Linked DNA regions of Homo sapiens. The protein of the gene in region 1 binds, or shares a complex with, the protein of each later gene. Each region holds a gene or a part of one and is shown in the gene's direction. Other genes may lie near its edges. The genes, in order: ORMDL3, SPTLC2, SPTLC1 and SPTSSA.

Region 1 (7,660 bases):
TATGCAGGTTTAGACTTTTTATTATGAACAGTTTTAAACATTAAAAAAGTAGAGAAAATAGCCCAGGCGTGGTGGCTCATGCCTGTAATCCCAGCACTTTGGGAGGCCAAGGTGGGCAGATCACTTGAAGTCAGGAGTTCAAAACCAGCCTGGCCAACATGGTGAAACCCTGTCTCAACTAAAAATACAAAAATTACCTGGATGTGGTGGCGTGCACCTGTAATCCCAGCCCACTCGGGAGGCTGAGGCAGGAAAATCTCTTGAACTAGGGAGGCGGAGGTTGCAGTGAGCCGAAACTGCACCACTGTGCTCCAGCCTGGGTGACAGAGTGAGACTCTGTCTCAAAAAAAAAAAAAAAAAAAAAGTATAGAAAATAATATAAGGAACTTCATGTCCTCATCACACAGCTTCCATAATTATCACCTCATGGCTCATCTTATTATTTCCCTATGGTTCCCAGTCCAGATTATTTCGAAGCAAATGCAATCACTGTATCATTTCATCCACAGATATTTTAGTATGTATGTATGTCTGAAAGGAGGACTTTTTTTTTTTTTTTTTTTTTGAGACGAAGTCTCTCTCTGTCACCCGGGGTGGAGTACAGTGGTATGATCTCGGCTCACTGCAACCTCTGCCTCCCAGTTTCAAGTAATTCTCCTGCCTCAGCCTCCCGAGTAGCTGGGATTACAGGCACGTGCCACCATGCCTGGCTAATTTTTTTCTATTTTTAGTAGAGACGGGATTTCACCATGCTGGCCAGGCTGGTCTCAAACTCCTGACCTTGTGATCTGCCTGCCTCACCTCCCAAAGTGCTGGGATTACAGGTGTGATCCAACGCACCCAGCCAAGGAAGACTTTTTTTTTTTTTGAGATGAAGTTTCACTCTTGTCTCCCAGGCTGGAGTGCAATGGCACGATCTCGGCTCACTGCATCCTCCACCTCCTGGGTTCAAGCGATTCTCCTGCCTCAGCCTCTCAAGTAGCTGGGATTATAGGCGCCTGTCACCACGCCTGGCTAATTTTTGTATTTTTAGTAGAGGCGGGGTTTCACCATGTTGGCCAGGCTGGTCTCGAACTCCTGACCTCAGGTGATCTGTCTGCCTGAGCCTCCCAAAGTGCTGGGATTACAGGCATGAGCTACCACGCCCAGCCATGGAGGACTTTTTAAATTAAAAAAACAACCTTACCACAATTCCATATCACGCCTAAACATTTAGAATTCCTTAATATCGTTGAATACCTTGTCAGTATTCAAATTTGCCTGATAACTTAATAAAATCTTTTTTTTTTTTTTTTTTTTTTTGAGACAGAGCCTTGCTCAGTCACCCAGGCTGGAGTGCCAATGGTGCAATCTTGGCTCACTACAACCTCTGCCTCCTGGGTTCAAGCAATTCTCTTGCTTCAGCCTCCTGAGTAGCTGGGATTACAGGCGCCCATCACCACACCCAGCTAGTTTTTGTAGTTTTAGTAGAGACGGAGTTTCACCACGTTGGCCAGGCTGGTGTCAAACTCCTGACCTCAGGTGATCCGCCTACCTTGGCCTCCCAAAGTACTGGGGTTACAGGCATGCGTGACCATGCCCGGCCTTTTTTTTTTTTTTTTTTTTTTTTTTTTTAAAGTCAGTTTGCTTGAATCAGGATCCAAATAAGACTTTTAGTTGATATATCATTTAATTTATTTTAATCTGTAAGTCTCTCCCCCTCTTTTTTTTCCTTTTTTTTTTTTTTTTTTTTTGAGACAGGATCTCACTCTGCTGCCCAGACTGGAATGCACTGGCACGATCACAGCTCACTGCAGCCTTGACCTCCCGGGCTCAATTGATCCTCCCACCTCAGCCTCCTGAGTAGCTGGGACTATAGACACACCACCATGCCCAACTAATTTTTGTATTTTTTGTAGACCACGGGGTTTTACCATGTTGTCCAGGTTGGTCTCGAACTCCTGGACACAAGCCTTGGCCTCTCAAAGTGCTGGGATTACAGGCGTGAGTCACCATACCTGGCCCCAGTTTTATTTGTTAAGGGAATTGGGTGTTTGTCCTAATTTTCTTCATTCTAGACTTTGCTGACTATATCCCTGGGGAATGTATGTTATGCTATTTTGTGTCCTCATCTTTTCATATAACTTAGCAAACATTCCCCATACTGCCACAGGGTTTTCACAATCTGTCCTAAATGGCTTCATACTATTCCATCCAGTGGATATACTGTAATTTTTTTCTTGGGCATTTGGTTGCTTTCAGTTTTTCACTACTATAAATATTGCTGGAATGAACATCCTGACACATTGCAGCTTTTCCTGTACATGGGATGACTTCCTTAGAATATGCTACCAAAAGTGTAATTATGGCTCTGAGGCAAGAAGAATTTTTCAGCTTCTTGGCACACAGTGACAAGTGTTTGTCCAAGGGTTTGTATGTCCCCCAGCACGAAATAAGAGAGCTGTCACTCACTCTGAATAGTGCTTAGGGCTATTCACAGCTGAAGAACGTTTGGGGAAGATATGATAATTATGAGGGCCAAGAGAGAAGGAGAAAGATGACAACAGGGACTCCCGCTAAATAAAGCAGAAAGTGATCTGCAATTTACCACAAACCTAGAGTGAGTCAGAACTCTGTTCATTCCTATTGTGAAAAAAAAATCCTCGATAACAGGAGTTATTAATAGTGCATGACATGTTCAGTAATCTTTCTGTTAGACTCTGCATTAGTCAGAACCTTATTTGAGACGTGGACTCAGTCTGGGTCACTGAACTTCATAGAGATGTCAGGAAACTGACCAAGATCCAGAGGGATCGATCAACTTGATGGAGGATGAAGAATCCCAGAGAAAAATCAAAGGAGTCAAGCAGGCACACTTCGGAAAAAACAGAGACACCTTTCTTGCCTTAATGCTGGGGAGGTTTCTGTGAAAAGAACAACACTGGGTTTGCTTATGTCTGCAGAAAGATGACTATAAGGAAAGGCACCTCCACAAACCAGGAGAAACTTCCACAGGACATAGGCAGAGCTATTTCAGACTCAGATGATTATTTCGATCTTGGAATGAGCCCTTTTGGGGCCATTGGCCCTGGAAATATTGAAGAAGCTGCCTGTTCTGCTCTGGGTGGTTCAAATACCCACCTGCCTGGTGACCACTAAGTGCCTCTGGGGGTCCCACTCCAGCTGTGTGACAACTGTTTCCTGGCAGCCCCCTGGGGAAGGAAAGGTAGGTGTAGTCCGAGTAAAGTGCTCCGCAGTTTCCCTGGGCTAGCCTTTTCCTTCCTGTTCCCTCACTTTCAGTTCAGGGTGCCATGAACTGCCATTCAGAGTCAGGTTGGCATGCCATGACATCATCTGACCTTGCTATTCCAGCCCTGCCCTGCATAGAGTGGACTTAGAAAGAAGCTGGGTAAGGAGTTGAAACTACCCAGACAAGACCTCTTGGTGACATGGAGAATGGGAGTAACCGAGGAGACCTCAAGAGCCATTTAGTTCAACCTCCTACAGTAATATTAAGTAGATTCCTACAATGCAACAGGTGCTTTACATACATTCTTTTGGGTTCCCACAACCTTGGAGGTGGGGTTTCACAGGTGTGGAATTGGAGATTAAGACAAGTAATTTGCCCAGGGTCACACTGCCAATAAAGGAGGGCCTACCCCATGTCTACCAGGCAGTAAAGTCTGTGCCCTTGCCTTTAGACGATGCAGATGTGAAAACTGCAGACCAGAGCCTCTCATTCAAAGCCACACAAGCTGACCTGAGACAGAAACTCAGGCTCCTTACTACTGATGGAGGAATCTATGATACGTAGCCTCTTCTCACGTCAGGTGCGGGGCGGCCAAGGATGTGGCCCGGTCCGGGGCAGCCTGGGCCAAGCGTGACTGAGAAGGAGAAGGCAGGCTCCGTTCCGGGCCCTCCAGACCCTCATCCCAGCCAATGTTGTGAAAAGCGCTCTCCCAGGAGGGCCCAGCAGGGCAAAGGGCCGGGCTAGTCTGTTTCTGGAGGAGCCAATCTGGGGCCAGGGCGGAGGCAGCCAGGTGCAGTGGAAAAATCCTGCAGTTGGGGTCAGAATATTTGGGTTTCGATCCAGTCTAGGACCCAGCAAAGACCTACAGAAAGTTACTTACAAGTCCGAGTCTCCTCATCTGCAAAACTGGGGCACGGATAAAATACACTTGAAGGGCACAGAAGCAAAAGTTGGAATTGTTACGCACCAAAATTCTATCATCCGATCTGACCATCACGTCACGGTACAACTTCCAACCGTGCGTCCCCGAAGAGGCCGGGAACGGAGCCCAGGAAAAACTACAACTCCCAGGAGGCGTCGGGAGGGCCGGCCCGGAGCCAGCGGAAGAAACTACAACTCCCAGAAGGCGTCGGGCGTGCCGGCGCGGGGCGGTGACGTACGGGGACCGGCGCGGAGCGCTGATTCGGCCGGAGCTGCCAGCGGGGAGGCTGCAGCCGCGGGTTGTTACAGCTGCTGGAGCAGCAGCGGCCCCCGCTCCCGGGAACCGTTCCCGGGCCGTTGATCTTCGGCCCCACACGGTGAGCCCGGAAGGAACCAAGAGGCCCCAGGGCTACGGGAGGGGCGGGAGAGAAGGTGGGGGCTGCTGGGGAGGCGCCCCGGGCTGGAGAGACGGGGGCAGAGGGAGTGGGGGGTGGAGGGAGTGCATCAGCCGAGGGGGTGCATCGGCTGGGGAGGTGGCCAAGGAATAAAGTGCGAGCGGGAGGCCGGGGGTGGAACGTCGGGAGGAGCGCCTCGGCTAGGGGTGGGAGGCGGGGAGCGGCTCGGCTTCGGGGATAAACGTTTGGCTGCCTCCAGGGCTGGGTGAACGCGTGGAGATGGCTGTGGGGTCCCGGACCGGACCGGGTTCCGAGTGCGAAGACCCAGGCTGGGGAACAGAGCGGGACCCCTCCCCCCGGCCCCGCACCCGAGGTCTCACTCAGAAAACCCCAACAACAGTGAGGACTCCGCCTCTTCGCTCCTCCTCTCCTGTGCTTAGTGCGGGTTCGCCTGGGCACTCGCTTTCCGCTCCTACCGCCCTCCCCCAGTCGGGGTGGCTGGGCCAAAGTTGAGAGGTTATCAGCTGTGGTCCTGCAGCTTGGGGGGTGGGCGGAATGGACATGGCATTGTGACGTGCTGCCCCGGACTCCCCGTTGGGGTCCCCATCCAGGCCTGGATGTTTTGTGCTCCTCTTCCAGAAGACAGGAGGTTTGCTGTTGTGAGGGCTGCTCTTTCCTGGGGGAGGGAATGGGAAGGGCTCACCTGGTGGCTGCCCTGGTGGTGCTCAGCCTTGGCTTGAGTGTCTGGCATACTGGCTGGGCCCGGATATTTGTATGTGGAGCCAAGAGGGTGGGGCGGGAAGGAGGGGGAAAGAGCTACCAGCAAAAAAGTGGTTAACACAACAGAGTTGCTGCAGGCTCTGGTTTGAGGCAGGTTATGAAACCACATCAGGGCCCAGCACTAAGCAGCCACCTGCCAGCTATGGCAGCAGAAGTTTTCGGCTCAACTCCTGTAGACCTAGTCGACCTCTGCCAGCCTCTTCTCTCTGTTTCTCCCCATCTAGGGTAGGGGCCAGTTGGTTGTTTTACTAATGGAAGTGATATGTATCCATAGTCACACGAAAGTCTCAAGAGTGTTTCCTCATTGCCAGTCTTTTTGTTAGTTTATTGATCTCTTCTTTTTCAGGGGTCTCTGGTGGTTTCCTGCTCTCAGGGCACCTAGTGTTTAGGCTTCAGGAAGAAGCTTCTGAGGGTGTTGGCTAGGACCTAGGTCTAGGCTTTTCCTAGGCTCATCAAGTTTTGTTGGCTGCCCTGTGAAAGCCAGAAAGGCGTATGGGGTCCTGTGATCTGGGATTCCCCAAGGCTTTTGGCACTCCTGGACAAATACTAGGAAGGGTTAGTGGACTTTCTATACCAGCACCCCTGTAGGTGCGGGTTACAGAGAGGTGATGGGGTGGCAGTTTCAGGTCAGACTTGGGAAGCTCTTTCCCTCTCCTTAGTCAGAGTTAAGTCCTTCAGAGCCCTCACTTGTCAGCCACATGCCGCCCTCCCCTCTCAGGTGGAGGCTTTTGCGTAGCAGCTGTCCCAGGGGCTGCTAGAGTAACTGAAGCCCCAAGGCCCTGGGAAGATAAACAATCTGAGCCAGCTCTGGCTTTCTAGATACTTGAATTTCTGTTAGGCTCAATTATCCAGCCTAGTGGGCTGCGCTGATGGGTCCCAGGAGCATCTCTTCAATCAGAATGCGCCCCAGGCTGGCGCACGGGTGTTTGCTTGTTGGGATGGCGTGTTGTGGGTCACATTTTCTCTGAGGTCTCTAAGCTTGGAGCTGTCTGAGAAGAGGAAACTTGCTCCTGTTATCCTGGAAGTAAATAACTGGCCCCTGAGGACTCAGTCTCCTGTGCAGGTTTGGCTAGGATCCTAGTCAGAGATAGATAGCATCTGGGTCTGACGGGGTTGCTGCAGGGGCGTGAGGGAGGTGGCCTTCTGGGTACTTCTAGAATATCTCCATCTGGGACTCTTTTCTGCATTCCCAGGAAAGATGGGGCTGTTACCATGGTGATGACCTTACGGTCTTTAGCAAGCAGGACCCTATCTCAGATAGGGAGGTGAGCCAGTACACAGGTGCCATCTGTCTCCACTTTCTCCTGGTCACAGGGCCCTCAGGGATCTGGGGACAGCCAAACTCTGGATAAGGGGCAGATCATTCCACCCCTTCCTTCTCTACTTCCCTCTGCTCACTGTGGGTTGCGGCCACCTCCTGGTTCCTCCTGCTGCAGGACTCCTACCGTTGGTGCTGGGCAGGGGAAGGCATGGTGCTAATATACACCTGGAAACAGGTGCTGAGAGGGGAGACTGAGGTGAGGATGGGCAGGACAGAGAAGAACGGGGGCAGGAGGGAGGCCACAGGTTCGAGTCTGTGCCCTTAGGAGACATATGTTGAGGTGGATTCCAGCTCTCTATGGGAGTTACAGGTGTTGGCCACGTTCTCTATCCTCGCCTCTCTTGTGGGGAAAAGGGCCCTGGTGGTTTGGCAGTGGAGTGGGTAGCATCACAAGGGTTGGCCTGAGTGGCTGCCAAATGGAGAAAACATCCGGATGGGTTGTTTTGTGTCACCCAGGAGGGGTGCCTTCTAGGTCTGGGCAAAGGTTGTCCCTAGTCTGTTGTTTTCTCCTTTCTTCCTCCCTTCCTCCCTCCCCACTTCCCTCTTTCTACCTGATCAGTCCTCCTAAGTTGGGGTTTGGGGAGATCCAGAATTGAAAAAATCAGAGGAGGTGAGTGGATGCAGTGACCTCAAAATAGTTCATCCACTGCTGCCTGTACCCACAGGCCTCACTTCCTTTCCCTCCTGATGGGAAGAGCTTAAGAGCAGATGTCCCACATTAGGCCTTCAGTGAGACACAGTCCAGCAGGGGTTGTGCTGAGTGAGAATTCTCTCCCTGGGGCTTTGTCGGCAGAGGGTCCTCATGGGAGTGCCATAGGGGGTGAGGCTGGGGGATGGGCCTTGACTTCTCTGCCCTGGGGCTGCGTGCCTCTTGATGACCTGTCCTCCGATGCCCTGCCAGGGCCCTGTCCCAATGGGATGATGCATGGGGCAGCCTGTTGTTTATCCCAGCCCAGCAGCAGGAAATGAGTAGAGCTAAGTCCACATGGACTTTCTCCACTTTCCATGCTTCAG
Region 2 (7,577 bases), on another chromosome or scaffold:
ATCTCAAAAAAAAAAAAAAGATTTTATGATAGGATGTCTCCCACCCCTATTAAGTATTCCCCAGACTTAATGTTGCTTAAATTTGGGGGAGTTTTTTTTAAGGACTTCATTTCAGGGCAGGTATTTTAAGTATGAAATCTGTAGTGTGGCAACAATGGTCTTCAAAGCATTTGTCTTTAACAAGGAAATTATGATCATCATTAATGGCAGTAGCAGCCAAGTTGTTTCCAGGCCCATTAACCACCATAAGAACCAACAGAGCCACAAGAACTTGGTTGTTTATGGACAACTGATGAAGTCAAACATGGAACAATTTCAACTGATTGTCAGGCTTGCTTAACACACAGACTTATACATGCCCCAGACGGGTGTATTTTTAACCCAGTACCAAAATAAAACTCTTTAACAAGCGTTTATTGAGTACGTCCTGGGTGAAAGGAAATGGAGCACGCACTGTGAAGTTTTTTTACGCCTTGCGTTTGTTTTTTTAGGAGGAGTATGTGTCTGTGATGGTTTATTCACACTCTCTCGCTCTGTCTTTTTTACGCATTTATTTCCGAATGACTCACTGGGATTAGAGATACAGTTTGATTCTGTATTTTTCGATAAACACACAGAAGCTAACTTAATGGCAGGGTATTTAACATGAGACACTGGTCATTTTATAAGGAAGCTAATGAACTGAGTTAGCCACCACCGTCCTTTAGTCAAGTTTCGATGGTTTTGAACATTTGTTACATTTTGGATTTCAATTCAAGGTGGCAATAATTCACCTATTTTGCCCTGCTTTTTTCTGCCCAACTCTAATTATGTCCTTTGCTATCTGAGGCATGGTTTCTGAATGAGAAATATATCTCTGCATTTCCGGAATAAAGTTAGGAAAGAGGAAGATGCGGTATAACTGTTCTTTTTTGTGCTCTGTAGATATGCAAAGCCTAGAGAAGCTATTGAAAGATGCCATTGTTTATGGTCAGCCTCGGACACGAAGGCCCTGGAAGAAAATTCTCATCCTTGTGGAAGGAATATATAGGTAATCCTGCTTTATTATTCTTACCTTTGTGACTTGGCCCCATGAAGTCATAGAATTTTTTAACTGAAGGGAACATTAGTCTATCCCCCTCTGGAAACTAAGGAGACAGTGTTTATAAGTCGCTAAAATACCTGGAAACAGAGTCAGCATTAGAACAGAAGTCTTTTTGTCTAGTTCTTCGTTATTCTTTCCATAATACTACATGGTCACCAAATCCCCTTTCTATTTGAGTCTTTTATTTTTCTAGTTTGTAGAGGGAACCTATATGTAGGGGCAAGAATTGGAATATATATTTTAATATGTCAAAACAAATTACACACCATTTAATTTTAATAAATATTTTATTTTAGGCTGAGTGCAGTGGCTCACGCCTGTAATCCCAACACTTTGGGAGGCAAAAGTGGGAGGTCGCTCGAGGCCAGGAATTTGAGACCAGCTTGGGCAACATAGTGAGACCCTGTCTCTGTAAAAAATAAATAAAAATTAAAAAGAAATATTTTATTTTGGTTAACCTTTACAGCTTTTACACGTATTTTTACCACCTAATTTTTTTTGTTCTTTTGTGTCATTTTAATTGCCTGTGCAACGTGATGCAAAGTCTCATGTTGCCTGTAATTACAAGCTTTAGAAGAATCTGCTGTGACCTTAATTATTTTTGTCGTGAATTAAGATTGCTTGTGTTTGGTGCTTGTTTTTTGTTTTTTGGTGGTTTGGGTGGCTTTTTTTTTAAGATGGAATCTCGCTGTGTCACCCAGGCTGGAGTGCAGTGGCGGGATGTCGGCTCACTGCAACCTCCGCTTCCCGGTTCTCCTGCCTTAGCCTCCCGAGTAGCTGGGATTACAGGTGTGTGCCACCAAGCCCAGCTAATTTTTGTATTTTTAGTAGAGACGGGGTTTCACTGTGTTGGCCGGGCTGGTCTCGAACTCCTGACCTCAAGTGATCCGCCTACCTCAGCCCACCAAAGTGCTGGGATTACAGGTGTGAGCCACCGCGCCCAGCCAGTGCTTGTTTTAAAAGTCCAGTTTTCTTTCCCCTAGTCTTTTGCCTTGCCATGGCTTCATCTACCTTTGTCAGTTTAAGCCACAGATACAGTTGTCAGACCATTTAAAACCCAATAAACTCAGCCGGGCAGGGTGGCTTATTCCTGTAACCCCAGAACTGTGGGAGGCCAAGGCGGGTGTATCACTTGAGGCCAGGAGTTCGAGACTAGCCTGGGAAACATGAGGAAACCCTATCTCTACTAAAAATACAAACATTATCTGGGCGTGGTGGTGGCGGGCACCTCTAGTCCCAGCTACTTGGGAGGCTGAGGCACAAGAATCGCTTGAACCCAGGAGTCAGGGATTGTAGTAAGCCGAGATTATGCCACTGCACTTCAGCCTGGACAATGGAGCAAAACTCTGTCCCAAGAAAAAAAAAAGAAGCAGTAAACTCAATAATAATGAAGTGCCAAACTCCCAATTTTGATTTAAAAAGTCTCAGTGTATATGTGTATATATATATTTTTTCATGTTTTGCCAGCATGGAGGGATCTATTGTTCGTCTTCCTGAAGTGATTGCCCTCAAGAAGAAATACAAGGCATACTTGTATCTGGATGAGGCTCACAGCATTGGCGCCCTGGGCCCCACAGGCCGGGGTGTGGTGGAGTACTTTGGCCTGGATCCCGAGGATGTGGATGTTATGATGGGAACGTTCACAAAGAGTTTTGGTGCTTCTGGAGGATATATTGGAGGCAAGAAGGTAAACGAGCCATGAGAATGAGCGATTAGAGATAAAGTCACTGGCAATTAGATTTGGTACCTCAGGCCTAGCAGATGGGGCCCTGAACTGGGATGTCCGCAAATTTGCCTCTGGTTTAGGCTCATAATACCAGTGAGTGACTCTAATGTCTCCTCACTGAACTAAAGGCTGGTTCTGTTCATTGTTTGTTGTTTTCTTATTTGAGCTTCTTTCTAAGCTACATGCTGATCTGAGATATAGAATACCCTCTTGTGTGAAAGAACACACAGTGGTGCTCCCTGCCCGCCCCAGCCTTCTGTTGGGTTTGCATTGTGCTCACAGTTTCAAAAACAGTGGGGTTGTCATGGGAGCCCATGGGAATAGCAGGTCACCTTGCCCTTGGACACAAATATATCATGAGTGAACATGGAGACAGGAAGCAAAAAAGTTGTGCCAGCTGTGGGGTACTACAAAGCATTGTATTTTTCAATTTTTAAACTATGAAGTTGCCTTTTCTGGGTCTTTGTAGTCAGAAAAAAATCATACGGTGAATTTTGATGCAGGTAAGAATCTGTGGTGTGGTCGAAATGGTGAACCATAAAGACAGAGGCCTGGGTCTGAATATTTCTCGGCTTACTTTGTTAGACCTCAGGGAAAACATTTAACCTCCCAGTTTCCTTGTCAGTAAAATGGAGATAAATATGCCCAGCTTGTAAGATTGTAGTAAGGGTTTAAAAAGTAATATATGTCCATGCTACAACGTGGGTGCACCTTAAAAACATTATGGTAAGTGAAAAAAGTCACAAAAAGTCACATATTGCATGTTTTAAAATATGTGATACCTAGAATAAGCATAGAAACAGAAAGTAGATTAGTAGTTGCCGGAGGCGGAGGGGATAGGGAAATGGAAAGTGAATGCTAATGGGTATGAGGTTTCCTTTCAGGGTTATGGAAATGTTCTAAAATTAGTGGTAAAAGTGGCACAACTCTGGATATACTAAAAACCACTGAATTGTGCTTTAAAACGGTGAATTCTGTGTATGTGGCTTATATCACAATGAAGCTGTTATTTTTAAACGTTGATTGCAATGTTAGGGAAAAAATAATGTATGTCAGGTATTTGTATATGGCACAGAGGAGGTGCTCATAAATGTTCTTAATTTTGCTTCACCACTCAATATTCGGAGTATTAAAGAATGGTTATGCTGGGCACAGTAGCTCACACCTGTAATCCCAGCACTTTGAGAGGCTGAAGTGGGAGGATTACTTGAGCCCAGGAGTTCAATACCAGCTGGGCAACATAGTGAGACTTCATCTCTACAAAAAAGTAAAAAAATTAGCTGGGTGTGGTGGTGGCACATGCCTGTAGTCCCAACTATGGGGGAGGCTGAGATGAGAGGATTGCTTGAGCCTGGGAGATCAAGGATGCAGTGAGCCGTGATTACACCACTGCATTGCAGCCTGGGCAACAGAGCAAGACCCTATCACAGAAAAAAAGGTCATTCTTTTAATACTTGATTGCCTGTTAGAGAGAACTCATTTTCAGTGACTTTTAATCAGCTTTGATAGATTTTTTTTTTTTTTTTTTTTTGAGACCAAGCCTTACTCCATTGCCAGGCTGGAGTTCAGTGGCACAATCTTGGCTCACTGCAACCTCCGCCTCCTGGGATCAAGCGATTCTCCTGCCTCAGCCTCCCAAGTAGCTGGGACTACAGGCACGTGCCACCATGCCCAGCTAATTTTTTGTATTTTTAGTAGAGACAGGGTTTCACCGTGTTGGCCAGGATGGTCTCGATCTCTTGACCTCGTGATCTGCCCGCCTCGGCCTCCCAAAGTACTAGGATTACAGGTGTGAGCCACTGCACCTGGCCAGGTTTGATAGATTTTTATCTCAAATATTACCTTTTTGTTAATGGGACCAGGCTCACTTTGGAGAGTTGTTTTTTAGTAAGCTTTGTGGCTGTGAACCAAAGGATAGAAAAATAATACTCTGGGAGATCATTAAAGTACAATATATTTGTGCTTTTGGTTTTTTTAGTACAATTTTTAATATTTTTGAGATAAAACTGTTTCATAGCCACATTTGTGTCCCCCTAATTTGTTCTGGTACATAAGCTTCTTGTGTGTGCATTTTAAAGATTTGGTGAAATTAAAAGATATCAGAGAATAGGGATATACAATTAAGTTTTTTTGAAATCCTTGTAAATGACAGAGTTTTACTTTATTCAGTGAGATGTCATTGGCATTTTAATAAAATACCTTGTAAGTTTCTATTTCACATTTATATCATTTTATACATTTCTGCATATCTGGAGGAAGTTCTAATGCTCTTAAAGTTGATGTTAGAGAACTGTTATTTAGGGGTAGAAGGATGGGCTTTATAGGCACACAGAGCTGCAGATGACATTTTCTGTGATACTTGGAATTAAATCATTATATCTAAAAAGCAATCCAAACACCTTGTTTAATTCAGCTGTGTTCATTTATTTTTAACTTTTTTTTTTTTTTTTTTTTTAAGACGGAGTCTCACTCTGTCCCCCAGGCTGGAGTGCAATGGCGCAATCTCAGCTCACTGCAACCTCCGTCTCCTAGGTTCAAGCGATTCTCCTGCCTCAGCCTCCCAAGTAGCTGGGATTATAGGTGCCCGCCTCCACGCACAGCTGATTTTTGTATTTTTAGTAGAGATGGGGTTTCACCATGTTGGTCAGGCCAGTCTTGAACTCCTGACCTCAGTAGATCCACCCACCTTGGCCTCCCAAACTGCTGGGATTACAGGCATGAGCCACCATGCACGGCCATATTTCTAACTTTAAATGATACATTCTCCAAATTTAGAGGGGTTGTTTTAAAACTAGTTTTTCTCTTATGTTGTTCCATGTTTAAAAAACAAAACCAAACCTAAGAACTTTGCCATGTTTCTGACCCAGTTGTTGCCAGCGGTATGCTTCGACCATGTTGGTTGACCTTGTATCTCAGATTAGTGTCCCTATTCCAGTGCCATTGAAGTGAGGAGTCCTCTAGAACTTAGAAGGAAAGGACTGACATTGCCGGTGAATGCAAGAATTGTCTCTACTTATCTGCCTCTGTGAACTCCCCAGGAGCTGATAGACTACCTGCGAACACATTCTCATAGTGCAGTGTATGCCACGTCATTGTCACCTCCTGTAGTGGAGCAGATCATCACCTCCATGAAGTGCATCATGGGGCAGGATGGCACCAGCCTTGGTAAGTCTTTCTTTTCTTGAAACATTGCATAAGTCCACCTAGCAGCCAAACGTGCTGTTTTTCTTGAGCTTTTTTCCTAAAATAAATAGTCAGGTTTACTAATAGGCAGAGCTGGCTGGTGTGTGGTTTCCATGGACACTTTTTTAGTGTGTTTGATACATATGCCATGAGAACGACCCTGGCTCACTTTCTATGGAATTTTCTTGTTTATAGATGGGAGGCTTTACTCTTACTATCCTACATACCCTCTTAACTCAGAGGTAATATACCTTCGAGGTTTTTCTTGAATTACATAATTTTATGTGAAGGTATAATTCACTGTTAGTGATGTTTCATTAACAGCATAGTTAAGAGCTGCTGTTTTCATAAATTAGTATTCCTGATTTAATGCCTTTTTAAAGAGTTTCTACTTTCATATACGGTAGATAATAAATGACATCCTGAATCAGTTTATTTTGTCTTTGATGGGATTTGTAGTCCCAACTAGATGCCTTGATTTAAACATACTACTGTGAACAGTGAAGTTCAGTGTTCACTTTCTGACATTTGACTTTTATTCTGCAACACCAGAGGGCAGTATTGACTGCAGAACAGTGGTACTAAAAGGGGAGCAACTGGGTGTCTGTCTTTACTTTAAAAAATATTTTCATTGCATGTATGAGACAATAATTTCACTTGTCGCTTTTTTTTTTTTTTTTTTTTTTTGAGACGGAGTCTCACTCTGTCACCCAGGCTGGAGTGCAGTGGTGTGATCTTGGCTCACTGCAAGCTCTGCCTCCCGGGTTCACACCATTCTGCCTCAGCCTCCCGAGTAGCTGGGACTACAGGCGCCCGCCACCACGCCCGGCTAATTTTTTTGTATTTTTAATAGAGACGGGATTTCACCGCATTAGCCAGGATGGTCTCGATCTCCTGACCTCGTGATCCGCCCTCCTCGGGCTCCCAAAGTGCTGGGATTACAGGCGTGAGCCACCGTGCCCGGCCCAGTTGTTGCTTTTTTAATGCTTGTAAAGTCAGTTTGGCATTTGTAAAAGATTTCACATTATCAGCCATGAGCTCTCCACTCTACAGTTATGTAATACTTTATTGTAAGATTGATTTGGCTTGCATCGAATAAAGTGGCACATCTGATTTTGGTTGGTTTAAGACTGTTTTCTTTCTTTCTTTTTTTTTTTTTCTGGTTTTTGTTTTTGAGACAGAGTCTTGCTCTGTCTCCCGGGCTGGAGTGTAGTGGTGCGATCTCAGCTCACAGCAACCTCCGCTTCCCAGGTTCACATGATTCTCCTGTTTCAGCCTCCCAAGTAGCTGGGACCACAGGAGTCTGCCACCACACCTGGCCATTTTTTTTGTATTTTTTGTAGAGATGGGGTTTCACCATGTTGCCCAGGTTGGTCTTGAACCCCTGGGCTCAAGCAGTCTGCCTGCCTTGGCCTTCCAACGTGCTGGAATTACAGCTGTGAGCCACCACACCCAGCTGACTGTTTTCTTTTCTTTTCTTTTCCTTTCCTTTTCTTTCTTTTGAGATGGAGTTTTGCTCTTGTTGCTCAGGCTGGAGTGCAATGGCATGATCTTGGCTCACCACAATCTCTGCCTCCCAGGTTC
Region 3 (7,577 bases), on another chromosome or scaffold:
TATAGTTGCTATGTCTTTCCAGAAAGGATTTGTGGTGGCTCAACCATGTGTGTTAAAGCATTTTCTGTAATGTAAGGAAATCAAGGGGAATGAATTATTAGGGTAGGCAAAATATGGGGAAATCTAGAAATAAAGTCAGTACCCAAATGAAGACCATATTATGGTCTTGGATACTTTGCTAGGAGTAAACAGCAGTCTTGCAAATAGATGGTTAGAGGGAAGCATGGGCAACTACTGGAGTTTGAATATTCATAAGTGTTGTGTGAGTTGCTGCAGAATAGCACAACTATTTCTGAAGTATGGGATAAAGATTCCCCTGTGGTCTTCTTAAAGGAGAGTCAGAGTAGAAAAGAATCCTACTCATACCCATCTCAAATTGAATTTTTATGTGTATGGTAAATCAAAAAAGAATTCTGAGCATAGAAGTTAAATTTTCATAAATTGTCAAGTCACCCACAAAACTACATGGAAAAGAACCTCTAGCTCTAGTGATAAGGAAAGAGGCGAGGGTGGTTAGTGCACAAAACTCACAAGTGATTGTTTTTATTCTAGCCACAACGAGACATGGTATTTCTAGCAGTGTATTCACTGTGACTTTTGCATTGCAGCAGACAATTTTGATATTGCCGAAGTTGAAGTAAAGTGACTGCGCCTGAAAAGCTTCAGGGGGTTTGAATAAGGATAGCTATAATAACAAGTGCTATGTGGCTTACGGAGGAATGAGTGATAAGTGATTTTAAATCAGTTTGTCTTAGACAAATAGAGCTTGTTATAACTATTCCTCATAAGGATAGTATGAGGAAGGGGTAGGATATATATTCTATTAGGGGGCTGAGGATGAGGGTAAGTCATATGATACCGTAGCCTCCTAACTACTGAGCTGGCAATAGAGACTTCTATGTGGGCTTTAGGGAGTCATAGGTGAAGTTCGTATAGGGGTATTTTTACTATAAAAGCCATAATACATGCTAGTCATATAAGGTTGTTAGATCAGAAGTTTAATAGTTCTTGATTAGTAAACATTATTATTAGGATATTTAGTGAACCTGAGCTATTTCAGGTGTGGATGAGTGTAATAAGTAAGGGAAGGGATCCTACTAGTGTGTAAAATAAGTATGAGCTTGCATTAGGCATTCTGGTTGGTTACCTCAGCAGGTAATAATGATTAGGGTAGGGATGAGTGTAGCTTCGAAAAGAATGTAAAGTATGACTAGTTCTGTGGCTGTAAATGCTGTAATTTAAAAAAGTTGTAGGAAAATTAATTTGGAAATACGGAGTTTTTTTCCATAAGGGTGATTCATTAGATAGGTGATGTTGGCCTGCTAGGATTATAAGAGGTAGTAGTCAGGCTGTTTGGATTAGAAGAGGTGATGTTAATGCGTCAGAAGAAAAAGTTAATGAGAAGTTAGATGAATTATTGTTTGGTTGATTAAAAAATAATAGGGTAATGAGGCTGATGAATAGGCTATGAGTAGCTATATTCAGACTATAGAGTTTTTGGAGAGTTATATTGTAACAGTATAATTGTTGGAATAATAATTTTTGGCATTGGAGTAAATTTAGATTTTGTACATAGTCTAGGCCTTATGCGTTGGAGATTGAGACTAGGAAAGCAAGGCCTACTGCGGCTTTGCAGGCAGCAAATACTAAGAGGATAATGGGTATTATGAATCCTAGAGTGAAATGCATGTTTAAAATTATGAGTGTATTTATGATAAATATTGATAGTATGATGCCTTCTAGGCATAATAGAGATGGTATTAGGTGGGATCGATAGATTAGTACTCCCAGCAGTGCTATGGTATATGCTAATATAATGTTAATATAAATAAATGGCATTTGGTAAATATGGTCTATCATAATCTAATGAGTCGAAATCATTTAATTTAAACTATTTACCAGTTCAACTCAATCTAATCCTTTTTGGGTTCATTCATAAATTAGGCCTAGGATTAGAATGGTAATTAGTAGAAGGGTTGTACTGATTATTAGTATAAGGTTATTTGTTTGAAGGGCTCATGGCAGGGGTAGGAATAGGACGATTTCTAATCGAATAGGAGAAATGTGATGGCTACTAGAAAGAATTTTATGGAGAAGAGGAGGTGGGTAGAGGTTAATGGATCAAATCTACATTCATAAAGGCTGGATTTTTCTATGTAAGTATTAAGTTATGCAAGTCAAAATGTAATTACTACTAATAATAGAGTTAATAAAGTGTCAGTTATTAGGGCTAGTGCTAGGTTAATTACTCTTTTTCAGACTTTGTCGAAACTAGTTGATTGGAAGTCAGTGGTACTGCTTATACTAAAAGAGTAGTAGGACCCTCACCAGTAGATAGAGACACATGGGAATAGTCATACGACATCTACAAAGTGTCAATATCAAGTGGCGTCTTTAAAGCCAAAATGGTGGTTGGATGTAAAATGAATTTTTTTTTTTTGAGACAGAGTTTCGCTCTTGTTGCCCAGGCTGGAGTGCAATGGCGCAATCTTGCCTCACCGCAGCCTCCGCCTCCCAGGTTCAAGCGATTCTCCTGCCTCAGCCTTCCCGAGTAGCTGGGATTATAGGCATGTGCCACCACGCCCAGCAAATTTTGTATTTGTATTAGAGACGGGGTTTCTCCATGTTGGTCAGGCTGGTCTCGAACTCCCGACCTCAGGTGATGTGCCCACCTCGGCCTCCCAAAGTGCTGGGATTACAGGGATGAGCCACCATGCCCGGCCTAAAATGAAATTTTAATTGGCAGAGAAGGCAGATGGTGAGAATTGTTGATCCAATAGTAACATGAAGTCCATGAAAGCCTGTGACTATAAAGAATGTTGAGCTGTAGATTCCATCAGAGATAATAAAGGGGGCCTCGAAATATTCTGAGATTTGTGGAAGGGTGAAATAGACTCCTAAGAGGATTGTGGTAAGTAGTGCTTGAATTGTTTGTTTTTGGTTACCTTCTGTTAGGCTGTGATGGGCTCAAGTCACTGAAACTCCTGATGCAAGTAATATAGACGTATTTAGGAGAGGTGCTTCTGAAGGGTTCAGGGGAAGAATAGCTGTTGGGGGTCAATGTCCTCCTAATTCTGGGGTTGGTGCTAAACTGGAGTGATAGCATGCCCAGAAAAAACCGGCGAAGAAGGATACTTCTGAGATAATAGGAGCATCCTGTATCGGAGGCCTTTTTGGACAATTGCTGTGTGGTGGCCTTGGAATGTACTTTCTCGGACAATATCACGTCATCATTGATATATAGTCAGTGTGTTGGTTAGTAGGCCTAAAGTTAAAAGAGTGGTAGAATTAAAGTGAAATCCTATGGTTAGGCCAGATGTTATTAGGAGAGCCGAGAGAGCTCCTGTTAGTGGTCAAGGGCTAGGTACAACTCTATGGTAGGCATGTGTCTGGTGGGTCATTATGTATTATGCGAACAAAGACGTACTAATAGTGTGAAGACATAAGCTTGAATAAGAGTGACAGCGAACTTGAGAATAGTTAGTAGAATTAGAATAATAAGAAATACTGAAGTTGCAGAGACACTAATAATTGATAATATTAGCACTGCACTGTATTTTAATTCTTTTTCTCCTGTAGGAAAAAGAAGAACTGATTGAAGAGTGGCAACCAGAACCTCTTGTTCCTCCTGTCCCAAAAGACCATCCTGCTCTCAACTACAACATCGTTTCAGGGTAAATTGATTTTGCTACCTGAAGTACTTGTATTTGGCTTCTTGTAGTAACCTGCAGTCTATAGTGCTTTATATGTAGTAGTCCTTTTTTTATCTGAAACAAAACATTTTGAAGTTCCCAGGAGTAACAGCTTTAGCTCCTGATTTTAAAAAATTTATTCTAGGGATGATACAGGCATTTTTTAAAATCTCCAATTTAAGCATTAATGTTTGCCCTTTTTTCCAAGAATGCACACATGTTAATATTTCCAATGGTCGAACACTTAAAATGAAAAGCAACAGACTTCTGCTTTTTACCCATCTGGTTATTTTCTGATTTTAAATTTGTCGCACGTTACCCTCATAATTCTAGATACTGTATAGTATGCTTAACTACCATTTGTTGATTCATCAACTACAGACAACACCTGTTGATCCCCACAATATGAATTATGGAGCTTCCGCTCACTTATGCCTCTTTCCTCCTTGCTTCCAGTGTCTCATCTATTTTTTACTTTTCATTCTCTTGGCTATCTTTGCTATATTGTATGTATTTTCATTAATTAAGAAATACAGTAAGAATATAGAAAGTTATCAGATATAGATATAGATATCAGACACCTATATACCTACCACCCAGAATTAATTGGTGTTAACATTTTGCTATTTTTAATTCAAACTTACTTTTACAGGTAAATACAATATTACAAATGCATCTTAAGAAATTCCTTCACATCCATCACTTACTCTTGCCTCTCATACGGATAACTACTGTCTTGAAGTTGGTGATTGTGTTTTCTTTGCCTATATTTATAATTTTACCATATATGCCTGTTGCCATAAAAATACTTGGTTTATTTTAAAATGTGATACAAGATATTTTCCTGAGTAGTATTGTTCTGATTCTGATCTGATCAAACAGGAGCTTCTATTCTTTACTTCTGTAGATCTCTTCAGTCTTATAAAACTTTTATATATTCTGAAATCAAACCTACCAATCTTTTTTTTTTGAGACAGAGTCTCGCTCTGTCGCCCAGTCTGGAGTGTAGTGGCGCAATCTCGGCTCACTGCAAGCTTCGCCTCCCGGGTTCACGCCATTATCCTGCCTCAGCCTCCCGAGGAGCTGGGACTACAGGCGCATGCTGCCATGCCCGGCTAATTTTTTGTATTTTTAGTAGAGATGGAGTTTCACTGTGTTAGCCAGGATGGTCTCGATTTCCTGACTTTGTGATCCGCCGGCCTCGGCCTCCCAAAGTGCTGGGATTACAGGCGTGAGCCGCCGCACCTGGCCCAAATTTACCAATCTTTTATAGTTTGGTCTTTTGAAGTCTTAGGGAATCGTTTCCTACCCTAAAGATCTAATTTGATTGTTTTCCATATGATGGTCAGTTGTCTCAGCATTATTAGTTGAATAATCCAGTATTTACCTACTGCTTGGAAATTTCCCTTCTTTGGTAAGCCAGATTCCCTTCTAAAGGGTCTATTTCTGGCTTTTATTTTTATTCATTGGATATATTCGTATCTCCTTATACCAGAGACTCATTCATGTATACCACAGCTTTATAATAAACGTTGATTAGAATGTTTTTCTATCTCCGTGTTCTTCAAAATTGTCTAGACTATTCTTGACCCTTCTTCACTGTGAGTTTAGGTTTAGGTGATCATATTTAACCAAAAAAATGCATTTGGGTTTTTTATTAGAAGTGTGTTGAATTTATGGATTAATTTAGGAGGCTTGGTATCTTGCTGATACTTAATCTCACTACCCATTTACATGGTATATATTGCTTGCATACTTGGGTCTTTTGTTTTCTATAGTAAAGTTGCTGGAAGAGGAGGAGGGGAGGAAAGAGGAGGAGAGGAATGCACACATATGGGTGTAGGAGGCTCCCTTCTGAAGGGAGGCTGGAAGGAGAAAGATGTGGGGCTAGGATGTGTGGGGCATGGGTCAGAGGTCAGAGGCACTGAAACTGCAGCTGAATGAGAGCAGCCTCCTTTCTCATTAGGTGGAACCCCCAAAATGGGGGCAAGGTCAGTGGGAAGAGCCAGGGAAGAGTTAGGAATTATGGATATCAAATTTTACTCAATTCTTGGTGTGAGAGAAGGTGGAGGGACAGGCAAAATGAGGGGCCCAACAGCACGTGGGCCGAGTCAGAGTAAGACGAGGAGCTGGGATCCGTGAAGTGTAGGTGGCCAGGGGCAGGGAGTCTCAGCAGGTGTGGAGACAGCAGGGGCAGGCTGGGTGCCACTGCAGTTTGCCATGTCTTACTTTTTTTTTTTTTTTTTTTTGAGACGGAGTCTTGCTTTGTCACCAGGCTGGAGTGCAGTGGTGCGATCTCGGCTCACTGCAACCTCCACTTCCTGGGTTCAAGCCATTCTCCTGCCTCAGCCTCTCGAGTAGCTGAGACTACAGGCACAAGCCACCATGCCTGCCTAATTTTTGTATTTTCAGTAGAGACGGAGTTTCACCATGTTGGCCAGAATGATCTCAATCTCCTTTTTTTTAATTAAAAAGTAAACTTTAATGTCGAAAATGCAGACTTGGGGAGGGCAGAAAGATCACACACAAGGCTGTCACTTCACACTTGGAAGGTTGCACAGCAGCGGGCAGAGACGCTCCTCACTTCCCAGATGGTGAGGGGGCCGGGCAGAGGCGCTCCTCACTTCCCAGACGGTGCAGGGGCTGGGCAGAGGCGCTCCTCCCTTACAAACGGTGAGGGGGCCGGGCAGAGGTGCTCCTCACTTGCCAGACAGGGTGGCGGCTGGGCAGAAGTGCTCCTCACTTCCCAGATGGGACGGCGGCCAGGCAGAGGTGCTTCTCATTTCCCAGATGGTGAGGAGGCCGGGCAGAGGCACTCCTCACTTCGCAGACAGGACGGCGGCAAGGCAGAGGCGCTCCTCATTTCCCAGACGGTGAGGAGGCCGGGCAGAGGCACTCCTCACTTCGCAGACAGGACGGCGGCAAGGCAGAGGCGCTCCTTACTTCCCAGACAGGGCGGCGGCTGGGCAGAGGCACTCCTCACTTCCCGGGCTGTGAGGCGGCCAGGCAGAGGCACTCGTCACTTCCCAGAGAGGGTGGGGGCCTGGCAGAGGCGCTCCTCACTGCCCAGACGGTGCGGTGGCCAGGCAGAGGCGCTCCTCACTTCCCAGATGGTGGGGCGGCTGGGCAGAGGCGCTCCTCACTTCCCAGATGGTGGAGCAGCCGGGCAGAGGCGCTCCTCACTTCCCAGATGGTACAGGCAGAGATGCTCCTCAGGTCTCAATCTCTTGACCTCCTGATCCACCCGCCTGGGCCTCCCAAAGTGCTGGATTACAGGCGTGGGCCACCACGCCTGCCCTGCTGTCTCTTCTTTCTCCTCCTAAGCAGCTCTCTTAGTCTCCTGAATTTTGATGTTCTACTTAACAACCTCATGTTCTTACGCATGTTGCCCTGCTGGAGGCGTCCTTCTCTTTGGGAAGCCTGACCCACCAACAGTGCCTCAGGAGATAGACATGGAAGCTTAGCCGGTGGGGGCCCCTCATCTCTCTCCCACCTCAGTTGCAGGGGAGGGGTCGGTTGCAGCTGCAGCGGTGGCCCCGACAGTTTTCTTTTGCGGGACCTGTGGCCGGCAGCTCTGGGTGGAGAAGACCTACTTGATCCAAGAGCTGCAGGATCCTTGGGCTGCATGTCCTCCCCCACCATCAGCAAGCCTGGAGAGCTGGGCAGGTGGTCTTTACCCAGCACCTTCAAGGCCGCCTTCTCTGGCCACAGGGAGCAGCCCGGAACTGGGGCAGGGAGCACTGTTGGAAGTGGGTCAGGCTTCCCAAAGGGAAGGATGCCTCCAACAGGGCTGTGTGAACTGGCGACTCCATGGCCCTTGGAGTAGAAACTCACTGCATGCACCTGGGCCTTGTCAGTCTGGTTGTTTTCTGTCAAGCTCTTGAG
Region 4 (7,577 bases), on another chromosome or scaffold:
GGCTCACTGCAACTTTGCATCCCGGATTCAAGCGATTCTCCTGCCTCAGCCTTCTGAGGTAGCTGGGATTACAGGTGCCCACCACCACGCCCAGCTAATTTTTGTATTTTTAATAGAGGCGGAGTTGGGGGTGGGGTGGGGGTGGGGTGGTTTTACCATGTTGGCCAGTCTGGTCTCAAACTCCTGACCTCAAGTGATCCGCCTGCCTTGGCCTCCCAAAAGTGCTGGGATTACAGGTGTGAGCCACCGCGCCTGGCCCAGATTAATTTCTTAAAGAGGATAGATGCATTAGTTTACATTTCCTGCTATATAATGCATTTTTAAAAATTTGAAGTTGTGGGCCGAGTGTGGTGGTGGACGCCTGAAATCCCACTAGTCGGGAGGCTGAGGCAGGAGAATCGCTTGAACCCGGGAGGCGGAGGTTGCAGTGAGCCGAGATCACGCCACTGCACTCTAGCCTCAGTGACAGAGTGAGACTCCGTCTCAAAAAAAAAAAAAAAAAAGTTGTAATTTCAGGGGAAATTGATAACGTACTATCACTGTACTTTCCAGGGGCATCCTTGAGCATCTGAATGGATGTTTAGAAATTATTTGCTTCTTGACTTCCCAAGTCAAATAGCTAGAAGTTAGTTAAAAGCTGTTGTAAATTGAAAGTCAATCTTGGCCGGGCGCGGTGGCGGTTCACCAGTCTGGCCAACATGGTGAAACCCCATCTCTACCAAAAAAAAAAAAAAAAAAAAAAAATTAGCTGAGTGTGGTGGCGCACGACTGTAGTCCCAGCTACTCGGGAGGCTGAGGCAGGAGAATCGCTTGAACCCAGGAGGCAAAGGTTGCAGTGAGCCGAGATCGTGCCACTGCACTCCAGCCTGGGCCACAGAGCAAGACTCCATCTCAAAAAAAAAAATAAAAAGAAAGTCGATCTTAGGCCTGGCGCGGTAGCTCACACCTGTAATCCCAGCACTCTGGGAGGCCGCGGTGGGCAGATAGCTGGAGTCCAGGAATGTGAGACCAGCCTAGAAAACATGGTGAAACTCAGTCTGTACTAAAAATGCAAATATTAGCCGGGTGTAGTAGTGTACGCCAGCTACTTTGGTGGCTGAGGCACCAGAATCTCTTGAACCTGGGAGGCAGAGGTTGCAGTGAGCTGAGATGGCGCCACTGCACTCCAGCCTAGGTGACAGCCTGTTCAAAAGAAAAAAAAATCTCAATTGAATATAAGTATTTTTGAACTTACCTATGTAAGGAAATTGCAATTTGTAAAAAAGATTTTAAGATGTGTTTTTAAGGAAAAGCATCTATTGGGTCAAGTCAGACACATTGTGAATAGTTCTTGAAACAGTAAGATTTATAAGTAAGTTTTGTAAATTCTTCCTCACTAGGGCCTATATACCATCTGTCTTTTCTTTTCTTTTCTTTGTTTTTTTTTTTTTTTTTTTCCGAGACAGTCTTGCTCTGTCACCCAGGCTGGAGTGCAGTGGTGCGATCTCGGTTCACTGCAGCCTCTGCCTCTGGGATTCAGGCGATTCTCCTGCCTCAGCCTCCCAAGTAGCTGGGACTACAGGCCGTGCCACCATGCCCAGCTAAATTTTTGTATTTTTAGTTGAGGTGGGGTTTCACCATGTTAGCCAGGCTGATCTTGAACTCCTGACCTCAAGTGATCCCCCCACTTCAGCTTCCCGAAGTGCTGGGATTGATTATAAGCATGAGCCAAGATGCCTGGGCTACCATCTGTCTTCTGATGAGACATTTGAAGTGATACATTGGCTTTTGGTTTGTCAAGGAATATTTGAACTTTTTCCATGTGCAGACATGTTTCTATCTTACAGAGAAATGGGACATGACACCTGCATTAAGACAAAAGGTAACAATAAAGAAGAATCTGATAAGTGCCAATTAGTATTACAGTATATACTACAAAAGGAGACCTACCATAGACTGAGAACCACTGACCTTATCTCAGGAGGAGACATTTTTAACATACCTTTCAAAAGTATCCTTTCCCTACTGGCATCCCAAGGTGGGAAAGAAAAGACCAGGTTTTGTAACCAAGATAGGCTTTTGTAACAGTGAGACACGCCCTGAAGTACCTCACTTGGATAACGTTGTAACCATTCCTGTTGAGAGTTGAGAAAATTAAAAATAGATTGTTAAAATAATTTGAATCAACTTTGGGAGGCTGAGGTGGCTGGATCACCTGAGGTCAAGAGTTCAAGGCCAGCTCGGCCAGCATGGTGAATTCTTGTCTCTACTAAAAATAAAAAATTAGTGGGGCATGGTGGCTGGCGCCTGTAGTCCCAGCTACATGGGAGGCTGAGGCAGGAGAATTGCTTGAACCTAAGAAGTGGAGGTTGCAGTGAGCCAAGATTGTGCCATTGTACTCCAGCCTGGGCAACAGAGCAAATGCTCCGTCTCAAAATAATAATAATAATAATAGTAATAATAATAATAATAATAATAATTTGAATCAGAAGTGTGCTATTTTAATCTTTTTTCTTTTCTTTTTTTTTTTGAGATGGAGTCTCGCTGTGTTGCCCAGGCTGGAGTGCAGTGGCGCGATCTTGGCTCGCTGCAACCTCTGCCTCCTGGATTCAAGCAATTGTTCCGCCTTGCCCTCCCGAGTAGCTGGGACTACAGGTGTGTGCCACCACGCCCGGCTAATTTTTATATTTTTTAGTAGAGACAAGATTTCACCATGTTGGCCAGGCTGGTCTTGAACTTCTGTCCTCAGGTGATCTGCCTGCCTCAGCCTCCCAAAGTGCTGGGATTACAGGCATGAGCTACCGCGCCTGGCCTAATCTTGTTTTATTCATTAAAAAATAAAGTCATATTAGTCTATAATCACTGGGCTATATTTGCCCATCTCTTTGCTGCTGATGATGTTTCCATGGCATGTTATTTTCAGCAAAATGTGGGCAGTTTTTTGGTTTATGTTAGGAATTAGATTCACCCTGAAAGACAGTTCATGTGTCTTGAAAACATTTTTTTCCCACTTTTAAACCACAGTGCTGGGCACACAAATAATGCTTAAAAAACAGTTGTTTATATATTGATTTGTTATTTTATTTTATTGATTTATTATTTTTTTGAGATAGGGTTTTGCACTTGTTGCCCAGGCTGGAGTGCAATGACGCGATCTCAGCTCACTGCAATCTCTGCCTCCAGGGTTCAAGTGATACTTCTGCCTCAGCCTCCCAAGTAGCTGGGATAACAGGCACCCACCACCACGCCTGGCTAATTTTTTGTTTTTTTAGTAGAGACGGGGTTTCACCATGTTAGCCGGATGGTCTCGATCTCCTGACCTCGTGATCCGCCTGCCTCCGCCTCCCAAAGTGCTGGGATTATAGGTGTGAGCCACCGCGCCCAGCCACACATTTTAAGCTGTATGTTATTTTCAGTAGCAACTAAATTATTTTCTTAGATTTTTGCTGTATCCTCAGATACTTACAACTTAGAATTAAAAAGGACTTTTTTTTTTTGAGATGGAGTCTTGTTCTGTTGCCCAGGCTGGAGTACACTGGCATGATCTCAGCTCACTGCAACCTCTGCCTCCTGGGTTCAAGCAATCCTCATTCCTCAGCCTCCTGAATAGCTAGGATTACAGTTGCACGCCACCATGCCCAGGTAATTTTTGTATTTTTAGTGGAGACGGGGTTTCACCATGTTGGCCAGGCTGTTCTTGAACTCCTGACCTCACGTGATCCTCTCCCCTCAGCTTCCCAAAGTGCTGGGATTACAGGTGTGAGCCACCGCGCCTGGCCTAAAAGGACTTTTTTTGCATCTCAATATACTAATTAAAGTATTTGGGAGTTTGGAAAATATGAATTTTAAGTTGTAAATAAAATAGATTATACATCCTTATGGTTGAAAACACAAAAGATACAAAAAGGTAGTTGGTGACACAGTCTTCCTTCCACCCCTGCCTCGGCCACCCTGGGACAACCAGTGTCAGCAGTTTCCTATGCATCTCTCCTGAGATATTCTGTGAATATATAAAAAATATACTCCTTTTTTTTTTCTTTTTTTGAGACAGTTTCGCTCTTTTCCTCAGGCTAGAGTGCAGTGGTGCGAACTTGGCTCCTTGCAACCTTTGCCTTCTGGTTGCAAGCGATTCTCTTGCATCAGCCTCCCCAGTAGCTGGGATTACAGGTGCCCGCCGCCATACCCTGTTGATTTTTTGTATTTTTAGTAGAGATGGGGTTTCACCATGTTAGCCAGGGTGGTCTCAAACTCCCAACCTCGTGATCCGCCCACCTCGGCCTCCCAAAATGCTGGGATTACAGGTGTGAGCCACCTAGCCCGGCTCCTATTTTTTTTTTTTCTCAAGATGGAGTCTTGATCTGTTACCTAGGCTGGAGTGCAGTGGCGCAATCTTGGGTCACTGTAGCCTCCGCCTCCTGGGTTCAAGCAATTCTCCTGCCTCAGCCTCACGAGTAGCTGGGATTACAGGTGCCTGCCACCACACCCGGCTGATTTTTGTATTTTTAGTAGAGAAGGGGATTTACTATGTTGGCCAGCCTGGTCTCGAACTCCTGACCTCAGGTGACCCACCCACCTTGGCCTCCCAAAGTTCTGGGATTACAGGCATGAGCCACTGCACCTGTCTGGGAAATGAACAATTGTAAGATTAGGAAGTAATGTGGGAGAAGTGAATACATTTATAAGGGAGGATGGGAAGGACAACCAGCAAACCACAAGAATTCTCAGACAGATCAAGCTCTGGGAGTACGGTGGAAGCAGACCACCTTTAACCGGATTCTCCTTAAACTATCCTAACCTCCTGGAAAGTTGTCTTGTTAACTCCAGGGCCCTACTGCTTTAGTTTGAAGAAAACTGCTCTAGCCTGTTTAACATGTTAGCCTTTATATTTGGCTGATTCAGTGAGAATGTTAGGATATCTCTTAACTGTACTCCTTAGAATATTAACTTTTTCTTTAGTAGTTTTTGGTTGGTAAAGGTTGAAAATAATGAAAACTGTGCTTAACAAGAACTAAATGGTCTATACCAGGACAGGCAGAGAAAGTCATGGTTGGGTTAATGGCAGTGGGAACAGACCACACATTGATATTCTGCAGCAGTGTTTCAGCATGTGATTCTAGTGATTTGTGAGTAGTGATCACTATAGGTCCTGTCTCCATTTTCTTAAAGACTTTGTGATTCCTCCAGACTATGAGTGTTGTAACATTTATGGCACATAGGAGCTAAGATAGATTTTTTTTTCCCCCTAAAACAGGGTCTTGCTCTGTTGCCCAGGCTGGAGTTCAGTGGCTGGCATGATCTTTAGTTCACTGTACCCTTGAACTCCTGGGCTTAAGTGATCTTCCCGCCTCAGCTTCCCAAATAGTGGGGACTACAGGCACACACCACCATGCCTGATTAATTTTTAAATTTTTAGTAGAGACAGGGTCTCACTAGGTTGCCTAGGTTGGTCTTGAACTCCTGGCCTCAAGCAGTCCTCCTGCCTCAGCTTTCCAAAGTGCTCGGATTACAGGTGTGAACCATCGGACCTGGCCTCTTTTTTTTTTTAAAAGAACAAACCCCAAATGCTCAAATTTAGTAATTTAAGCTATGTGTTCTAGAAGATGTACTTGATAGAGGATATATACTTTTTATAAATTGGAATGTTGAAAAAATAGTAGTTATGATCAATAGTTATGAGAAATAGAAGTTTTACTAATACAAGCGTTTTGGTCAGCATGTATTATATATGTTTCTGAAAAACTGCAAAATAATATGGTTTATAGGAAAATATTATTGAGTCAGACCACTTAAAATGTATGCAATTTAGTAAGCAAGCACTAACAAACACAATACTTGGCATCTTGAGGGAATAACTTGGATGTCCCAGACAGGCAGGCAGCTCAGCTTCACTGGAAGCTGCCCGAGGGGACATGAACAAAGCATGGACAAAGTTGAATGGAAATGTCAGCAGTAGGTGCTGATGTAATACAGACAGTGTGGGCTGCCATTGAGGCAGTGTAGGGCCAGTGCCACCTGCCACATTGGCTGAGAGCTGTGCTACCCTGGAGGTGCCTTTCTCTGAAGAGGGAGACTGGGTACAAATGCGAATTTCTGATTTTCTTAAAATAGAGTTAAAAGGACTTCTGCCTGTATAGCAGCTGAGTTGAGAGATGTTTCCTGCAGAAGGTGATACAGTTGACCCTTGATCCACTTGGGGGTTAGGAGTACTGCCCCCAGGCCCTCATCCTCACCCTGCAGGCAGTTGAAAATCTGTGTACAACTTTTGACTCCCCAGAAACTTTACTAATAGTCTACTTTTGACTGGAGCCTTATTGATAACATTAACAGTCGATTAACATATTTTGTATGTTATATGTATTATATACTGTATTCTTATAGTAACGTAAGCTAGAGGGAAGAAAATCATAAGGAGGAGGAGGAGGGGTTGGTCTTGCTGTTTCAGGGGTGGCAGAGGCAGAAGAAAATCCATGTATAAGTAGACCTGCACAGTTCAAACCCATGTTTTCAAGGGTCACCTAATTATTTTCCCACTAATCTGCTCCCCTAAATGATGAAATATCCCATATGAAGGAATATAGCTCCTGTACTGTACTAGTCGTATGTGAGTTATCTGATGTTACAGAAACATGTACTGTAGCAGAACAGATTATAATTCAGAGCAGACTGGGAAATTTTTCCCCATAACACTGGGACTTCAAATCTTCCTGAGGGTAATAGAAGCTCAAATCAATAAATGTGTGCCAGAGACACTATAACCTTAGTGTCTCTGGGATTAGAGCTACAAACCATTTCCAGGATTTTAGTCCACAGTGAAAAATTTTCAGTCCGTGATCATTACTCATTTCAGCAGCATGCTTTGTTGTTTGTTTAGTTTTAAAAGAGCTTGTCATCAAGTTGTAGTTTCTAAAAACAATTTTCATACTTAGGTTTGTATAATCAGCACACTATAGAAAGCTTAGAGAATGGATTTTGCTTGCTAAACACTAATTTCTGATGGTGATGTGCTATCCTTTAACATGACCCTTGAATATCAAATTGGTTAACATACAGAGGACTGTGACAGTATAATATTGTGACAGTATAATATTTTCCACTTGTTTCAATGTAAGAAAACTGGAAAAGTATCAAGAGATAGTTGATATATCTAGGAAAAATTAACTTTCTTTTTTTTTTTTTTTTTTTTGAGATTGAGTCTCACTCTGTTGCTCAGGCTGGAGTGCAGTGGCGCGATCTTGGCTCACTGCAACCTCCGCCTCCCGGGTTCAAATTCTCATGCCTTAGCCTCCCGAGTAGCTGGGAATACAGGTGTGCGTCACTGCGTCTGGCTAATTTTTGTATTTTTTTTGGTCTGACCTCAGGTGATATGCCCGCCCCGGCCTCCCAAAGTGCTGGCATGGGATTACAGGCGTGAGCCACCACGCTAGGCACTTTCTTTACATTTCTGTTGGTGATGATCTGCAGTTTTTTGAGGTCAAAGGAAAAGAAAACTACAGTAATAAGGAAGCTTTCCTGTTTGGGGCTTCATTCAGTAGCCTGCAGCTGCTTTCACTTAGGGCTTTGATTGCTTTTCAGTAAACAGCATATGATAATACTTCGTC

Evidence for each region.
Region 2: the proteins of ORMDL3 (region 1) and SPTLC2 are in contact, whole or in part, in a cryo-EM structure (PDB 7K0O), measured with the Homo sapiens proteins. Residues at the interface, in NP_001307730.1 of Homo sapiens: Met1, Asn2, Val3, Gly4, Thr5, Ala6, His7, Ser8, Pro12, Val16, Ser19, Arg20, Gly21, Ile22, Leu24, Ser25, Leu28, Phe63, Val67, Lys68, Gly69, Thr70, Pro71, Phe72, Glu73, Pro75, Gln77, Arg81; in NP_004854.1 of Homo sapiens: Glu65, Thr66, Pro67, Met68, Ala71, Val72, Tyr75, Tyr86, Gln116, Phe118, Glu119, Asn120, Phe121, Tyr122, Tyr127, Trp134, Asp259, Glu260, Leu261, Asn262, Val267, Arg271, Ile279, Met320 (codon at 2,553), Val495, Val496, Gly497, Phe498, Pro499, Ala500.
Region 3: the proteins of ORMDL3 (region 1) and SPTLC1 are in contact, whole or in part, in a cryo-EM structure (PDB 7K0N), measured with the Homo sapiens proteins. Residues at the interface, in NP_001307730.1 of Homo sapiens: Gly92, Val93, Gln94, Phe95, Thr96, Ala97, Lys100, Thr103, Ile104, Ile107, Tyr110, Phe111, Ser114, Tyr119, Gln121, Phe124, Thr128, Leu131, Met132, Leu139, Pro140, His143; in NP_006406.1 of Homo sapiens: Ala16, Leu17, Ala20, Pro21, Tyr23, His24, Leu27, Glu28, Leu31, Ile32, Trp34, Ile35, Leu38, Leu39, Ser41, Lys42, Thr43, Tyr44, Lys45, Leu46, Gln47.
Region 4: the proteins of ORMDL3 (region 1) and SPTSSA are in contact, whole or in part, in a cryo-EM structure (PDB 7CQI), measured with the Homo sapiens proteins. Residues at the interface, in NP_001307730.1 of Homo sapiens: Val36, Leu38, Ser39, Ile40, Pro41, Phe42, Ser44; in NP_612145.2 of Homo sapiens: Ile44, Tyr50, Thr51, Val54, Phe55.

What each region holds. Positions count from the first base shown.
Region 1 is NC_000017.11:39,924,351-39,932,010, reverse strand, and holds the start of ORMDL3 (ORM1-like protein 3), read left to right. Parts: upstream 1-4,409; 5' UTR 4,410-4,527; exon of another isoform or gene 4,528-4,582; intron 4,583-5,008; exon of another isoform or gene 5,009-6,388; intron 6,389-6,639; exon of another isoform or gene 6,640-6,842; intron 6,843-7,205; exon of another isoform or gene 7,206-7,256; intron 7,257-7,660. UniProt on the Homo sapiens protein: Plays an essential role in the homeostatic regulation of sphingolipid de novo biosynthesis by modulating the activity of the serine palmitoyltransferase (SPT) in response to ceramide levels.
Region 2 is NC_000014.9:77,550,494-77,558,070, reverse strand, and holds part of SPTLC2 (serine palmitoyltransferase 2), read left to right. Parts: intron 1-924; coding exon 925-1,030; intron 1,031-2,551; coding exon 2,552-2,771; intron 2,772-5,848; coding exon 5,849-5,975; intron 5,976-7,577. UniProt on the Homo sapiens protein: Component of the serine palmitoyltransferase multisubunit enzyme (SPT) that catalyzes the initial and rate-limiting step in sphingolipid biosynthesis by condensing L-serine and activated acyl-CoA (most commonly palmitoyl-CoA) to form long-chain bases.
Region 3 is NC_000009.12:92,104,837-92,112,413, reverse strand, and holds part of SPTLC1 (serine palmitoyltransferase 1), read left to right. Parts: intron 1-3,579; coding exon 3,580-3,674; intron 3,675-7,577. UniProt on the Homo sapiens protein: Component of the serine palmitoyltransferase multisubunit enzyme (SPT) that catalyzes the initial and rate-limiting step in sphingolipid biosynthesis by condensing L-serine and activated acyl-CoA (most commonly palmitoyl-CoA) to form long-chain bases.
Region 4 is NC_000014.9:34,451,831-34,459,407, reverse strand, and holds part of SPTSSA (serine palmitoyltransferase small subunit A), read left to right. Parts: intron 1-7,577. UniProt on the Homo sapiens protein: Component of the serine palmitoyltransferase multisubunit enzyme (SPT) that catalyzes the initial and rate-limiting step in sphingolipid biosynthesis by condensing L-serine and activated acyl-CoA (most commonly palmitoyl-CoA) to form long-chain bases.